Linked DNA regions of Homo sapiens: region 1 is linked to region 2. A link means that fine-mapping ties the variant in region 2 to the expression of a gene that starts in the linked region. Tissue or cell type: whole blood. Region 2 holds a variant in brackets; the other region holds the start of a gene. All regions are shown on one strand. Distances are from middle to middle.

What was found. PIP is the estimated chance that this variant, and not a neighbour inherited with it, causes the effect.
Region 1: it holds the start of DDX56, and the variant in region 2 is fine-mapped to the expression of DDX56 in whole blood (TOPMed, PIP 0.98).

The regions. Positions count from the first base shown.
Region 1 is chr7:44,569,565-44,577,667 of GRCh38, reverse strand. It overlaps DDX56 (DEAD-box helicase 56), which reads left to right and starts at 3,760. Exons shown (of 14, transcript NM_019082.4): 1 at 3,760-3,832; 2 at 3,924-4,085; 3 at 4,618-4,778; 4 at 4,924-5,094; 5 at 5,231-5,321; 6 at 5,932-6,176; 7 at 6,791-6,910; 8 at 7,540-7,653; 9 at 7,765-7,859. The coding sequence starts at 3,773. RefSeq lists an enhancer at 3,994-4,143.
Region 2 is chr7:44,619,332-44,627,434 of GRCh38, reverse strand. OGDH (oxoglutarate dehydrogenase) reads right to left here. Exons shown (of 23, transcript NM_002541.4): 2 at 2,870-3,118. The coding sequence starts at 3,091. Among named protein-coding and RNA genes, the nearest start is that of OGDH, 17 kb to the right of the region's middle. RefSeq lists a silencer at 3,253-3,312 and an enhancer at 4,471-4,780. The variant T/C (reference allele first, on the strand shown) is at 3,476.

The DNA of each region.
Region 1 (8,103 bases), 50 kb after region 2:
ACTACACCCGGCTAATTTTTGTATTTTTATTTTATCTTATTCATTTATTTATTTTTGAGATGGAGTCTCACTCTGTCGCCCAGGCTGGAGTGCAGTGGTGCAATCTTGGCTCACTGCAACCTCCACCTCCTGAGTTCAAGAGATTCTCCTGCCTCAGACTCCCGAGTAGCTGGGATTATAGGCGCCCGCCACCATGCCCAGCTAATTTTTGTATTTTTAGTAGAGACAGGGTTTCACCATGTTGACCAGGCTGGTCTTGAATTCCTGACCGCAGGTGACCCGTCTCGCCTCCCAAAGTGCTGGGATTACAGGTGTGAGCTGGCCGGGCACAGGTGATGGGGTCTTGCTCTGTCCCCAAGGCTGGAGTGCAGTGGTGCCATCACAGCTCAAAGCAACCTTGAGCTCCCAGGTTCAAGTGATCCTCCTACCTTACCCTCCCAAGTAGCTGGTACTACAGGTATACTCCACTGTGCCTGGCTATTTTTACTCTTAAAAATACATGTGGGCTGGGCACGGTGGCTCACGCCTGTAATCCTAGCACTTTGGGAAGCCAAGGTGGGTGGATCCCTATAGCCCAGGAGTTCGAGACCAGCCTGGGCAACATGGCGAAATCTTGTCTCTGCAAAAAATACAAAAAATTTAGCTGGTGGCACATGCCTATAGTCCCAGCTACTTGAGAGGCTGAGGTGGAAAGATCACTTGAGCCCGGGAGGTCAAGGCTGCGGTGAGCCATGATCGTGCCACTGCACTCCAGTCTGGGCAACAGTGATCCCATCTGAAAAAAAAAAACAAAAAAAAAAATGCAATTTAGGGCCAGGTGGGGTGGCTCACGCCTATAATCCCAGCACTTTGGGAGGCCAAGGCAGGGGGATCGCCTGAGGTCAGCAGTTTGAGACCAGGCTGGCCAACATGGTGAAAACCCCTCTCTACTAAAAGTATAAAAATTAGCCAGGCATGGTAGTGTGTGCCTGTAATCCCAGCTATTCAGGAAGCTAAGGCAGGAGAATCGCTTGAACCCGGGAGGAGGTTGCAGTGAGCAGAAATCGAGCCACTGCACTCCAGCCTGGGGGGCAGAGGGAGACTCTGTCTCAGAAAAAAAAAAAAAAATGCAATTTAGTTCTCTAGGCTTTTCCATTTAATAGTTTTATATCCTCCTGTTTCTAAATCTGGATGACAGTGTAACACTCCAGTAAGGTGAATTGTGAATTGCTGAAATTCTTCAGATGTTTAAAAGAGTTTTCAGTATTCCTCATGTTAGAATTAATGCAGAGAAAAATTTTATCCTTTGAACTAGTTACATGTTGTGGACTTCTGGCCTGAGGCTCTTGGGGATTATGTGACATATTGGGAAGGGACACATTTCTGCTCTGTGGCTGTTACTAGAAATCTAGCCAGCAAATCAGACTACGTTTGTGAGAAGACAGGAAGGCACAGATTAGGGTTGAGCCAGCCTTCAACAGGTTTGGCTGGCAGTAGACACAGTGGAGCACATCTTAACTATTTTGGTAGGTCCTGGGTTTCTCTTGGTAGTTTTTGATAGAAAGGGGAATGGTGTGAGGAAAAAGTGGGCATACATTTCACCTTTCCACTGATAAGGCAGGTGGAATTGGGATAGTCAGTGGATGGGCCAATAGCTGGTGGCTGTGAGAAGAATAAGGATTTCCATACTGGTGTGTCATATTTACAGATAGGTTGTGACCTAAAAAGTTTTTTAAAAAACAGCAGTTAGGGCCTGGGCGCGGTGGCTCACGCCTGTAATCCCAGCACTTTGGGAGGCCGAGGCGGGCGGATCACAAGGTCAGGAGATCGAGACCATCCTGGCTAACAACGGTGAAACCCTGTCTCTACTAAAAATACAAAAAATTAGCCGGGCGTGGTGGCAGGTGCCTGTAGTCCCAGCTACTCGGGAGGCTGAGGCAAGAGAATGGCGTGAACTCGGGAGGTGGAGCTTGCAGTGAGCTGAGATCATGCCACTGCACTCCAGCCTGGGCGACAGAGTGAGACTCCTTCTAAAAAACAAAAACAAAACCAAAACAGTAGTTAGGGTACACACACACAAATTCTAGTGATTTTCCCCCCAATACTACCCTTGACTTTTGAAATTCTTGCTTTCTCAGAGTTTACAACATCCTTACCAAACAGCCTTCTCCCTCCTTACCACAAAAAAAGAAAAAAAAGTTCTGGGGTTGAGGGGACACTCCATTCTTAACATCCTCTATTATCCCAGCCCAATTCCCCAGCTCTCACTGGGACTAGTTGTACCTATCTTCATCATTTGGTCCCAGCATGACTACCTGTTGGTGCATGAGCTGATCTCTCCTAACCTAACAGCCAGATGCTAGTCTCTGGTACTCAGATGCTGGGCTGCATCAGATAGGATGCACAGGATCATCCTGGAAGCTTGTTGACATAGATTCCTGTGCAACACTCAGATATAGTCTTAATGTAGATTTGTGTTGGGTGGTATGGTAGGTAGAATAATGGCCTACCACTCTGAAACATATGAATATGTTACCTAACATGACAGAAGAGAATTAAGTTGCTAATCAGATGACTGTAAAATAAATTATCCTGGATCATCTGGATGGGCCTAATGTAATCACAAAGGTTGTTTCCTTGCCTTTTCCAGCTTGGCTCTGGCTCCCTTCCTCCAGCAAGGGTGGGTTGAGCTCTCACATGGCACCACTTTGACCTCTTCTGCTTCCCTCTTCTACACTGAAAGACTTATGGGCCAGGAGCAGTGGCTCGCACCTGCAATCCCAGCACTTTGGGAGGCCGAGGAAGGCAGATCGCTTGGCCCCAGGAGTTCAAAACCGTCCTGGGCAACGTGGCGAAACCCCATCTAGAAAGAAAAGAAGAGAAGGGGAGGGGGGAGGGGAGGAGGAGTTACATATATACACATACACACACACACACACGTACGTACATACATACATACACGCTAACTGGACGTGGTGGTGCGTGCCTGTAGTCTTAGCTTTCCAGGAGACTGAGGTGGGAGGACCACTTGAGCCTGAGATCGCGCCAGCCTGGGTGACAGTCAGACCATGTCTCAAAAAAAAAAAAAGATTTGTGATTAGGATTCTTAGTCCTCACCTGTATTATTTTCCTATTGCTACTGTAACAAATTACCACAAATTTACTGGCTTAAAACGACGCAAGTCTGTAGGTCAGAAGTCTGACACGGGTCTTAACTGGTGACCCGAGTCAGATTTGGGACACAAAGAACAGAAACCAAGCTGTGCAGGTTTCTGACAGGCAGTCCGGTTAGGGAGCCCTACAGCAACCCGCCGGTCCTCTCTCTCAGGCAGTTGCTGCCATGGCTCATTATTCCAACCGGTTCTCCTCAGCCCAGTCTATCTCAGTGGCTCCATTCATAGGGTGATGTGCCCGGCGGGACACTAACCCTAACCAAGCAGAGAGACGGTCATGCCCGTCACGACCTCGGCCCTCGCCCCGGCCGAGGCTTCTCCTGCAGGTCGCGAGAATCAGGTGCGTCAGCGGCGTCCGGGAACGCCGGAAGAGCCAGTGGAGCGGCTCTGTAGTCCAAAGTACCCCGTCGACCCCAGCACGGCCGCTCCACCGCCTCCTACTAGACCCAGTCCTAGGGACTGCGCAGTCGCAGAGCTCCGTCCGAGTACCGGAAGCCTAGGCCGCCAGCACTTCCGGGAAGTGACTTCGTCTCCGAAGCCGATTGGTTGTTGCTTTGCTCCCGCTCGCGTCGGTGGCGTTTTTCCTGCAGCGCGTGCGTGCTGCGCTACTGAGCAGCGCCATGGAGGACTCTGAAGCACTGGGCTTCGAACACATGGGCCTCGATCCCCGGCTCCTTCAGGTACACGCGAGGGCTGGGGAGCCGGCTTACGGGCTCTGCGGGGCGCGCCATCGCTCTTCACGCCGCTTAAACCGCACTCCTGGTCTCCTAGGCTGTCACCGATCTGGGCTGGTCGCGACCTACGCTGATCCAGGAGAAGGCCATCCCACTGGCCCTAGAAGGGAAGGACCTCCTGGCTCGGGCCCGCACGGGCTCCGGGAAGACGGCCGCTTATGCTATTCCGATGCTGCAGCTGTTGCTCCATAGGAAGGCGGTGGGTAACGAGAGAGCTGAGGGGAGGAAGGAGGCAAGCTCCAAAAGCCTGGGAAGGGCGGTTCCCGTTTGTCTGAGGTTTTCTCTTGGCCCTGTACCCGTGCAGGCCGGCCTGAGAACCTGGTGCTGTTGTGGCAAACACTCTGGGCTGGAGTTCAGGTTACCTGGATCCTTGTCCGGCCCTGCTACCACCAACCTTTGCGTAATCTTCGACAAAGCACTTTCTTTTCTTTCTTACATAAAAAGGGAGCACATCTATCTTTTCTACTTACAGAATTATTGTGAGAATTTAGCTTCATAACTAGTATATTTAAAGTAGCTTCATAAACATCAGAGTACGTTATTCTTTTTGAGGGTCAGTGCCTGGGGAAAGAACTCTCCACTCTGCATTCTGAGGCGGGCAGAGTGATAGATGATCAAAGTACTGCTAAGTAGTGTTGCAGCAGATGGGTCAGGTAGGCTGGAAGGGGTAGAGACACGTGGACACAGTGATGTGCACTGCTGGCTAAAGTCTTTAATTCATATTCTTACAGACAGGTCCGGTGGTAGAACAGGCAGTGAGAGGCCTTGTTCTTGTTCCTACCAAGGAGCTGGCACGGCAAGCACAGTCCATGATTCAGCAGCTGGCTACCTACTGTGCTCGGGATGTCCGAGTGGCCAATGTCTCAGCTGCTGAAGACTCAGTCTCTCAGAGGTGGGTAAAAGCAGCAAAGCTGTACCTGAATGAAGCTACACAGTGTTGTGGGGTTGGGTTTGTGTGTGGCAAAAAAGAGAGCAAATCCAGGGTGAGATCCCAGCTGCTACATTCTGCCTGATACTGATGTCTTGTCCACCTCCAGAGCTGTGCTGATGGAGAAGCCAGATGTGGTAGTAGGGACCCCATCTCGCATATTAAGCCACTTGCAGCAAGACAGCCTGAAACTTCGTGACTCCCTGGAGCTTTTGGTGGTGGACGAAGCTGACCTTCTTTTTTCCTTTGGCTTTGAAGAAGAGCTCAAGAGTCTCCTCTGGTAAGGCAGAGGTGGGTGTGATTCCTAGTGGAAACATCTGTGAGTAGGAGTTGGGACGAGAGCGGGGTGGCTGGAAGCCAGTTACTACAATTAGCGGCCCTTGGAGCTGGAATCTGATTGGATTCTTTCATTTCAGTCACTTGCCCCGGATTTACCAGGCTTTTCTCATGTCAGCTACTTTTAACGAGGACGTACAAGCACTCAAGGAGCTGATATTACATAACCCGGTAAGAGGCACCATGGAAGTGTCTGGAGCTGCAGACATGGGGGCACTCAAAGATCTTGATGCTCCTTCTTAGGGGATTCTTTGGTGTTTTGGGTGGGACAGTTGTCACTTAGTGTCTCATCCCTGGTCCTGAGGCACTAAAAGCCAGTGGTCTAAAATCACTATATATTTCCAAGTGTCCACAAGGGATGTCTCCCATTTCAGGCCATGCTTTGCCTAAAATCCTGAGCAAGGACCTCCCCTAAGGGGCAGCTTTGAGCAGCAGAGCCAAAATTCTAAGGCCAAGGTTCTCATCTTAAGTAAACTTTACCTTTCAGAAGGCCTGTTGCTGTAGGCCTTCCCTTCTCAATGTAGTCCTTTATTGATGTGTTTCTCTTTGTTCTGTGCTTGGAAGTATTTTATATATGGTTTATATGGTATACTCTATATACCACAACAATAAGGGCATTTTGGGGTTTTAGGTTACAAAACTGGAGGAGAGTTAGGGTGCCAGGAATCCTTAAATGCATCTCTGCCCTGCACTAAAATGTTGATGCTTTGGTTGGTGAGTAAGTGGCCATACATCTCTGTGTTCTTTTCCTTTCTGACCACAGGCCTGTTTTCTCCCCCAGGTTACCCTTAAGTTACAGGAGTCCCAGCTGCCTGGGCCAGACCAGTTACAGCAGTTTCAGGTGGTCTGTGAGACTGAGGAAGACAAATTCCTCCTGCTGTATGCCCTGCTCAAGCTGTCATTGATTCGGGGCAAGTCTCTGCTCTTTGTCAACACTCTAGAACGGAGTTACCGGCTACGCCTGTTCTTGGAACAGTTCAGCATCCCCACCTGTGTGCTCAATGGAGAGCTTCCACTGCGCTCCAGGTCTGCCACAGCCAACATCTTGGTTGAAATAAGTTGAAGATAGAGATGGAAAGGGGACCCAGTTAATGTTCTGTTTCTTAAGCACTTAGTAGGGGCCAGGTTCTAGATGTGACTGATACTGACTTCTCCCAACTCCAAAATACCTATCATGGCCGGGCACCATGGCTTATGCCTGCTGTAATCTCAGCACTTTGGGAGGCCGAGGTGGGCGGATCGCCTGAGGTCGGGAGTTCAAGACCAGCCTGGCCAGCATGGTGAAACCCCGTCTCTACTAAAAATACAAAAATTAGCTGGACATGGTGGCAGGCACCTGTAATCCCAGCTACTCAGGAAGCTGAGATAGGAGAATTGCTTGAGCCCGGGAGGTGGAGGTTGCAGTGAGCCAAGATCGTGCCATTGCACTCCAGCCTGGGCAACAGGAGTGAAACTCTGTCTCAAAAAAACAAAACCCTATAATTATTTCCAGCTGAGGAAACTGAGGCACAATGATTAAGTAGGGAAAGAGATTAAGAAGAGGAAAAAGGAAAGGGTGATGGTTACTGTGATACTAGGGATGGCAGAGGGGCCTTGAGCTTGCTCTGCTGAGCTGATTCTCTGTCCGCTCTTGGCTGCAGGTGCCACATCATCTCACAGTTCAACCAAGGCTTCTACGACTGTGTCATAGCAACTGATGCTGAAGTCCTGGGGGCCCCAGTCAAGGGCAAGCGTCGGGGCCGAGGGCCCAAAGGGGACAAGTGAGTCCATGCCTCTTTTTCCATCCCTCCCCAGAAATGCCTGTGTTTTTAGCTTTTTGGAAGACTAAAACCAGAGTGCACAGAGCAGGGAGCCAAACCTTCCAGGCCTGGCTGGTAGTGTAGCCCAGAGAGCCCCACAGGTTCTTGCTCAGCTGCCTGGATATAGAGAAGGGAGTGGATGGTGCACACTGCACATGCACCACGAAGGGCAAAACTGCCGGGGTTGTTGGCATGCAGAGCCCTGCAGGGGAGATGGCCCATCCTGCATTGGTGGTATGGCTGTGACTTGCAGGGAGCATATTTCTGAAGGGAAAAGGAACCCCCCAACTCTCCAGTCTCTGTCCAGCTGAAGGCTTGACTAGCTCAGAGTTGGTTTTCAGATCACCATGTAGGGCAATGAGTTCTGCTGTTGTCCCAGAACAGAGGTCAGGCCGAGATTTGGGTACATGTCAAAGCTCCAGGCTGCCCCAGGAAACCCTGACTCCTGGAACGGTTCCATTGTTGGAGAGTCCTCTGTATGTCAGGGTCTTATGATCTACAGGCATTTAGAGGAAGTTTTGCTGATTCAGCGTGTGAATACGTGCCCAGAGGAGAGGAAGGGTCCGGCTGACATTGAGTTATCTCTGCAGGGCCTCTGATCCGGAAGCAGGTGTGGCCCGGGGCATAGACTTCCACCATGTGTCTGCTGTGCTCAACTTTGATCTTCCCCCAACCCCTGAGGCCTACATCCATCGAGCTGGCAGGTAGTAGTGTGACGGCCCAGGCATCTGCATGGTAGGCACACTGAGGGACTTGGGGTGTGCTGGACAGAGCCTGCGGGTTGGAGATGCAAGCTGCACTGTCTTCCCTTGCAGGACAGCACGCGCTAACAACCCAGGCATAGTCTTAACCTTTGTGCTTCCCACGGAGCAGTTCCACTTAGGCAAGATTGAGGAGCTTCTCAGTGGAGGTAAGAGCCTGGCTCTTGTGGTCCTGGGCCAGGGTCAGGCTTCTTCCACAATGCTTTAAAACTCCATGATAATGATGACAGAGGTCACAACATAGTGTGACAGGCCACTTCCACCATCCATCCTTGTTCTGCCCTGAGTGGCAGGCACTGTCCCCCTTGAGAGATAAACAAATTGAGGTAATTTGTCCAAAGTTGTGTTTACTGTCTGCCTCATGAGCGTTGAGTGACCTGACAGGCTGCTGTG
Region 2 (8,103 bases):
TTTAAACTATGTGATCTAAAATAAGAGCACAAATAAAGTGAAATGCCTCTAAGGCTATGGATCCTAAACTTTCATGGGTGACAGATGCTTTGAAATTTGGACAGAAGTTATGGATTATCTCCCTTGAAAAACATGCACATGGCCAGGCGCCGTGGCTCACGCCTGTAATCCCAGCACTCTGGGAGGCCAAGGCAGGCGGATCACGAGGCCAGGAGTTCAAGACCAGCCCGACTAACATGGTGAAACCCCGTCTCTACTAAAAATACAAAAATTAGCCGGGCGTGGTGGCACAGGCCTGTAATCCCAGCTACTCAGGAGGCTGAGGCAGGAGAATCGCTTGAGCCTCGGAGGTGGAGGTTGCAGTGAGCTGAGATTGCACCACTGCACTCCAGTCTGAGCGACAGAGTGAGACTCCATCTCAAAAACAAAACAAAACAAAAAAACAAACAAACAAAAAACATGCACACACCACATACTGGGCCCAATTCAACTTAAAGAGGACCCACCTTGCCGTCTGGGATGGCAGAGGAGTGATGAAGTCCGTGCTGGATGACAACCGGGATTGCTGGAGGGCACGCCCACTTTTAACCATCCTGTCCCCTCCCCTCTACAAGCAGGGAGGGGCAGAGCATGCATGTGATTCCCACACTGTGCCCCCTGGAGACTCCCAGCAACAGAAACAGGCATAAAGACATAAAGCCACCATGCCCCCACAAAAACCATCTTCAAAAGCTTCCAGCAGGAGCAGCTATGATGGCAACAGGCCCAGTGTCCACAGCACTGTGGCCACACTGCTCACAGAGTGCACCTTTTACCCATGAATCACTGAGGACCAAACCTTCACAAGGACATGCAGTCTCAGCCAGGTGCTCTTTACCTTTCAGACACTAGGCACTGTCATTTAGGAGCTACTGACTCCAAATCCTAACATCACTGAAAACAACTTGGTTGGTTCCAAGAAAAGGTTATGTTTGAGAAAAGGAAGGCAAAAGAATAGGCCTGGGCACATAATAGTCCTTGATTCTGAAACCTCAGGGCTCAGTTTTATTCTAGATATAATCTGCAGGTGTAGGGGTGTGTGTGTGTGTGTGTGTGTGTAGGGGTGTGTGTGTGTGTGTGTGTGTGTGTAGGGGTGTGTGTGTGTGAAATCTGCCACAATCTGCAACCACAGTCTTCAGTAACATCCATGATATCACATCAAAAGCAGGGGCCAGTTTCACAGAGCACTTCTTCTGGGCAATTTGTTTACAGACTAGGGAAATAAACTACAGATTTCTTACAGAAAACCAGGTCTCACCTTGCCCAGTAAGCAAGGCTGCTCCCAGGTTGCCATGGAAACAGGGAAGGACTGGGCTAGATCTGGGCAATAAGGCTGAGACAAAGTGGCATTCCTGAAAAAATGGGACCTGGTGGCCCAGCAGTCATGGGAATATACCCGCCCCCCACCTTCTTTTAAATTTTAGAGACAGGGTCTCCCTCTGTTGCCCAGGATGGAGTGCAGTGGCACCATCACAGCGCACTGTAACCTCGAATTCCTGGGCTTCAGCAATCCTCCCACCTCAGCCTGTGGAGTAGCTAGAACTGCAGGCATGTGCCACCACACCTAGCTAAATTAAAAAAAAAAATTCGTAAGTGTCACTAATACTTAAAGGGAAAGCTTGTTTACAGGAGCCCAGTGGAAGCAGACTTCCTTTTGGTGATAAGCCCCCAAGATTCAAGAGTAGGAAAAAAGCCAAATTCACAGTGAAGATAAGCAATGTTGGCTAGGCACTGCCTCCGAGCTGAGTGCCCTGCTCATGCTACCTCCTTTCATTCTCTCAACCACCTACAGATGAGGCACAGGAGCTTAGAAACGCTGGGACCTACCCTCTTATTACTATACTACACTGTCTTCCCAATTCCTTCAGGAGGCTGGCTGCTTTCCCTGAAAATCAAGGAATGGTTATCAAAACCTATAAATATTTATTGGCTCAAAACAGAATAAAGGAATTCTGTCACAAGGCATGACATGGCCAGGCGTGGTTGATCATACCTGTAATCCCAGCACTTTGGGAGGCCAAGGTGGGTGGATCACTTGAGGCCAGGGGTTCAAGACCAGCCTGGCCAACAAAGTAAAATCCCATCTCTACTAAAAATACAAAAACTAGTCAGGCGTGGTGACGTGCACCTGTAGTCCCAGTTACTCGGGAGGCTGAGGCATAAGAATCACTTGAACCCAGGAGTCGGAGGTTGCAGCAAGCCGAGATCCCGCCACTGCACTCCAGCCTGGACAACAGTGGGACTCTGTCTGAAACAAAACAAAACAAACAAAAACAAAAACAAACCAAAAAAAACAAGACATGACTTACATCAGTAATCATGTGGTGAAAAGTTTAGAAAATGCCCTTATATGTAATACAGAGAAGTTAGAAACAAACAGGAAAAAAATACGAACATAATGAGCTAAAAGGCCATTCATACAGAAATTACATGAGGTGACTACGGCATGTTACAAATGAAAGTATCCTCTCCAGACAGTTAGAATGGAGGAGCTTCCTGAGGTCCTGCTCTTTTCCACACACTTTCTTTCTTTCTTCTTTCTTCAGCGGCTTCATCCTGAAGCAGCCCTTGCGGAGATGCTGGAGGGTCACACACATGCTTCTTCACATCCTCGCAGAGTTAAGCACAGTGTCTACTGCTGGACGCCAATCCAGGGACCATGGCTTCTGCTGGGGCTATGCTGGGTCCGATACAGATACGGTGGTTGGTATGGCGCTCCAGCTGCCTGTCTGCCCGCTGACTCCTCAGGACGCACACACTTACCTGGTGACCAGTCAGGAACAGGCCAACACACCAACATGAGGCAGACCCACAGCCCTGCGAGCCTTACCTTATGTACACTTTTGGGGTTTTCCAGCCAAGCACAGTACATCTCCTCCACATAGTTCGAACTAGTCCCACTGAGAAAGGGCTCAGCAGCAACAGGTGCAGAATAGCACCGAATCTGTTGAAATGTCCTAGCTGCTGCTGGTCTGTTTTGTGAAAATGTCTTAACAGTCTGGGAAGCCGTCAATGGCCTCAACTTAGCAGCACAAGTCCTTAAATGAAACATTTTTGTCCTGAAGTTTTTCACAACTGCCTGTACAAAAAAAAAAAAAAAAAAACAAGAAAGAAAGGTTTTAAAAATGAGTATTTAGGAGACAAGGCTACTAGATCCTGATGCTCTAGAGAAAGGATAATTTTTTTTTAAAAGCTACTAGAAAAACAAAAACAAAAACAAAACATGTTCAACTCTAATTGTTGAGGAGAAAGACCCTGGCCTATAAATGTATTCACAAGAGTGCTACCTGCTCAGTGCCACCAGTTCATGTGCCTGAGAGCACAACAGAGCTGTGACTGTGTGAAACTGAAACACACTCTTGCACCTACTAACACAGGATGCCTGTGCGAGCCCAAGGAAGGTGAGTGCACAGTTGCAGATATTACCATCTTCACT[T/C]AAAAATTTAAATCTAGGCCAGACTCGGTGGCTCACACCTGTAATCCCAGCACTTTGGGAGGCCAAGGCGGGTGGATCACGAGGTCAGGAGATCAAGACCATCCTGGCCAACATGGTGAAACCACATCTCTACTAAAAATACAAAAATTAGCTGGGTGTGGTGGTGCATGCCTGTAGACCCAGATACTTGGGAGGCTGAGGCAGGAGAATTGCTTGAACCTGGTAGGTGGAGGCTGCAGTGAGCCGAGATTGCACCACTGCACTCCAGCCTAGCAACAGAGTGAGACTCTGTCTCAAAACAAAACAAAACAAAAAACCATTAAATCTAGTTTAAGGGCTAAGATGATAAACATACGATGTTCTTTAAATTTACATATTACATATATATAAAACAATTAGAAGAAAGGCAACAAGGATTAATTAATTTAGAATTAGGATTAGGATTAATTGGAGAATAAGTAAAACATTTTCTAATCTGTCCAGAAACTACTGAGTACCTGCTGTACTTACAATATTATGGAAAATACAAAGAAATTAGAAAAATACTTTCCTTACTCTCAATTTACCCTTGAGCAGAGGAAAAACAACATAGAAAAGATTGCAGAGGAAATATGAGTACTTGAGAGGTGCAGAATATGCCAGCAGACCCTGTGAGAGGATGGGCTCCTTCCAAGTGGGTGTGCCTGAAGACAAAAGGACATGGATGGGAAGGAGGGAAGACGAGGCACTGCATGTGGAAGGACCCATAGGCAGAAACACAGAGACGGGAAGAGCCAGAATCTCATGGTACTACGAAGGGTAAGGAAAAGCCACAGAGGGTTGTCCAGTGTCCTGCCTGCCACCTTCTGCACTCAGCCCCCTTTCATAAGCCATGGGGAGCCAGGTCTGAGCAAGGGAGACGTGGGTGGGGTCTGCAAAGATTGAAAAGAGCACATGGAGCAGTTGTTCAATAATGCCTGCCTACCCTGGGCCCTCCATGGTGAGCAACTCTACGCATCTGACTCATACATAAACCCAGAGGCTCCCAATAAGGCAGGCACCAGCTCTTTCACTTTACAGATAGCTTCAGTTTCTATTCCCTTACATTTCATCCAAGGTCATAGGCTACTAACAGCAGAGTCAGGATCCAAGCGGAAAGTTCACAAGGACGCTGCCTGTGGAAAAAAAGGTGCTTGCTGGCCTACATGGTTGCTCATGAATTTGTCTCAAAGCAGGTGCTCTGGTTGTAAAGTTAGAACTACACTCCATGTCCACACCTACCCGAAGAAAATCCAAGCTCTGAAACATAGTGTGAATTACCCAGAAATAACTGTTACATAAAAATATCTTCTATATTATTTATCAGAAACTTCCTCTTGGCCCAAATATGCTCAGAATACACTTAAGGGACACCAAGAGAGAGGGCTTAGAGTGTCCTGCATTCACCTCTGGCCTGCTCCACTGAGAAGAGATAGGTCAGCAAAAGTAAACAGCAGAACATATTCTTTAAAAACAAACTGAACAACAAACAAAAACTTGCTCCTTACAAATTAAAGGTAAACAAGCAATATATTCTGGATATAATTAGGGAATGCAATCTTTACCCCTGGGTTTTCACTTTAGAAATCAAAAGTTTTAAGTTAATTCGGTAGTTCTTCCTACCTCCAACTACACTCCAAGTTTTTCCACTGATATATTTAAGGAAGACAAACAGCCCTAACATTGACAGCAAAAATACTACTGTTGCTTCATTTTATGCTATTTTTTTTTTAATTTCTCAGGCTCAAAGGAAAATGTTCATTTTTTTCCTTTAATGTCATTATTAAGGCAATATTAAATACCCAATTGCCTCTGAGTTGGGTTTTCTCCCAGAAAACAATAGCATCACCTCATTAACTATCAGTATTCAGTTGCTGCAATAGCCCAATTAACAGGCACTGAACTGACAATCGTAAAACACCAATTTCATCTGTTCTTCCCAAAGTGGCCCCTTCCACATGATCCTGTTTAAGTAAATCATGACATTTTGCTATCCGCAGTCACTGAATCTGACACATAGTTAAGTGCTGCCCAGCAGAGCTGCCACAACAGCTGGAGATTTTTTTTTTTTGATACGGAGTCTTGCTCTGTAGTCCAGGCTGGAGTGCAGTGGTGTGATCTCGGCTCAGTGCAACCTCCCATCCCAGGTTCAAGCAATTCCCCTGCCTCAGCCTCCCGAGTAGCTAGGACTACAGGTGCATGCCATCACACCTGGTTAATTTTTGTATTTTTAGTAGAGACAGGGTTTCATTATGTTGGCCAGGCTGGTCTCAAACTCCTGACCTCATGATCTGCCCACCTCAGCCTCCCAAAGTGCTGGTATTACAGGCGTGAGCCACCACACCCAGCTGAGATTTTTAAACTTCCCTTAAGATGACTCACGGGAAGAGCTGCCCTTCAGCAGATGGCTCAACATCCCCAACTCCACCCAGGAACGGCCAGGACAGCTATTTGCTGTCCACACTTTGACAGAACGACAGAGCCAACACTAACGCACATTTCTAATTCTGGTAAATACCCATTCTTCACCTTTCTCTCTTACATAAAACGGCATAAGAAGATATTAAAAGCCAAGCACGGTGGCTCATGCCTATAATCCTAGCACTTTGGGGTGCCAAGGCTTAAGGATTGTTTGAGGCCAGGAGTTTGAGACCAGCCCGGGCAACATAGTGAAACCACATCTCCACAAAAAATTTAAAAGCTATCAGGGTGTGGTGGCACATGTCTGTAGTACCAGCTACCCCGGAGGCTGAGGTGGAAGGATAGCCTGAGCCCAGGAGGTCAAGGCTTCAGTAAGCTATGATCGTGCCACTCCACTCCAGCCTGGGTGACAGAGCGAGACCCTATCTCTAAAAACAAACAAACAAACAAAATATATTAAATACAAAAAGAAGGAAAACTGCCAGCCAGTCAACATTAGGTCTTGAAATTCAACTTAGAATTCTGTAACTGACACTAAGTCAACTTTAAGAATAGTACGTTATTTGGTAGAGACATTCAATTGTTTAAACAATTTTTGTGAAAGCTCCTCTGAGCTGTCCAAAATATCCAAGTGTTTTGATTTTTGGTTTAAAACAGGGATGTCCAATATTTTGGCTTCCCTGGGCCACATTGGAAGAATTGTCTAGGGCCACACATAAAATACACTAACACTAACGACAGCTGATGAGCTTTAAAAAAAAAAAAATCGCAAAAACATCTCATAATGTTTTAACAAAGTTTACAAACTTGTGTTGGGCCACATTCAAAGCTGTCCTGGGCCACATGTGGCCCACGGGCTGGGAGTTGGACAAGCTTGCTTTAAAAGAATATTTCTATTTAAATGGGTGCCAACTCCATTCAGCAGGGAAAAGAACAGTCTTTTCAACTGAAGGTGCTGGGACAACTAGAGTTCCACGTCTAAAGAGGAATGAAGTTGCATAGACATATACAAACAAAATTCAAAATGGATCAAAGACCTGAATGTAAGAGACAAAACTATAAGATACTTAGAAGTTTTATAACTTCCATGAAGTAAATCTTTGTAACCTTGATTCAAGCAATGTATTCTTAGTTATGACACCACAAGTATAAACAACAAAATAAAAACCACAAATTGGATTTCATCAAAATAAAAAATCTGGCCAGGAGCGGTAGCTCACGCCTGTAATCTCAGTGCTTTAGGAGGCTGAGGCAGGCGGATCACTTGAGGTCAGGGGTTCGAGACCAGCCTAGCTAACATGGCGAAACGCCGTTTCTACTAAAAATACAAAAATTAGCTGGGCATGGTCATGCATGCCTGTAGTCCCAGCTGCTTGGGAGGCTGAGACAGGAGAATCCCTTGAACCCAGGAGACAGAGGTTGCAGTGAGCTGAGATCGCACCACCGCACTCCAGCCTGAGTGACAGAGCGAGACTCTGTCTCAAAACAAAACAAAACAAAAAATTTTTGTGCTTCAAAGAACTTATTAAGAAAGAAATGATATAGATGGGAGAAAATATTTGCAATTATCTGATAAGGAACTTATATACAGAATATATAAAGAACTCTCATAATGCAACAGTAAAAAGACAACCCAATCAAAAAATAGGTAAAGGATTTGAATAGATATTTGTCCAAAGAAGATATACTAACAGCCAATAAACACATAAAGTCACCATATAACACAGCAATTACACTCCTAGATATATAATCAAGAGAAATGAAAATGTATGTCCACAAAAAAAACTTGTACACAAATGCTCATAGCAGCATTATTGTTGCTATGAGCAACAACAGTTGAAACAGTAGAAACAACAGTAGAAACAACTCAAATGTCCATCACTGACGAATGGATAAGCAAAACGTGTTATATCTATAGAATATAACAGCATTCTGCAATGAAACTAAGGAAGTGCTGGTGCATGCTCCAACCTGGAGGAACCTTGAAAACATTATGCTCAGTAAAAAGCAGCAGACGCAAAAGACATATTATGAGTCTATTCCTCTGCTCTCACACAACAACCAACACAGAAGATTTCTGTGACTAAATGTGTGGGGAATTCTCCCTACCAATAAGCAATTCAATTCTGCTGCTACCTACCTGGAGACAGCATCAGATACCACAGGTCAAGGGCTCAATCCCACAAGGC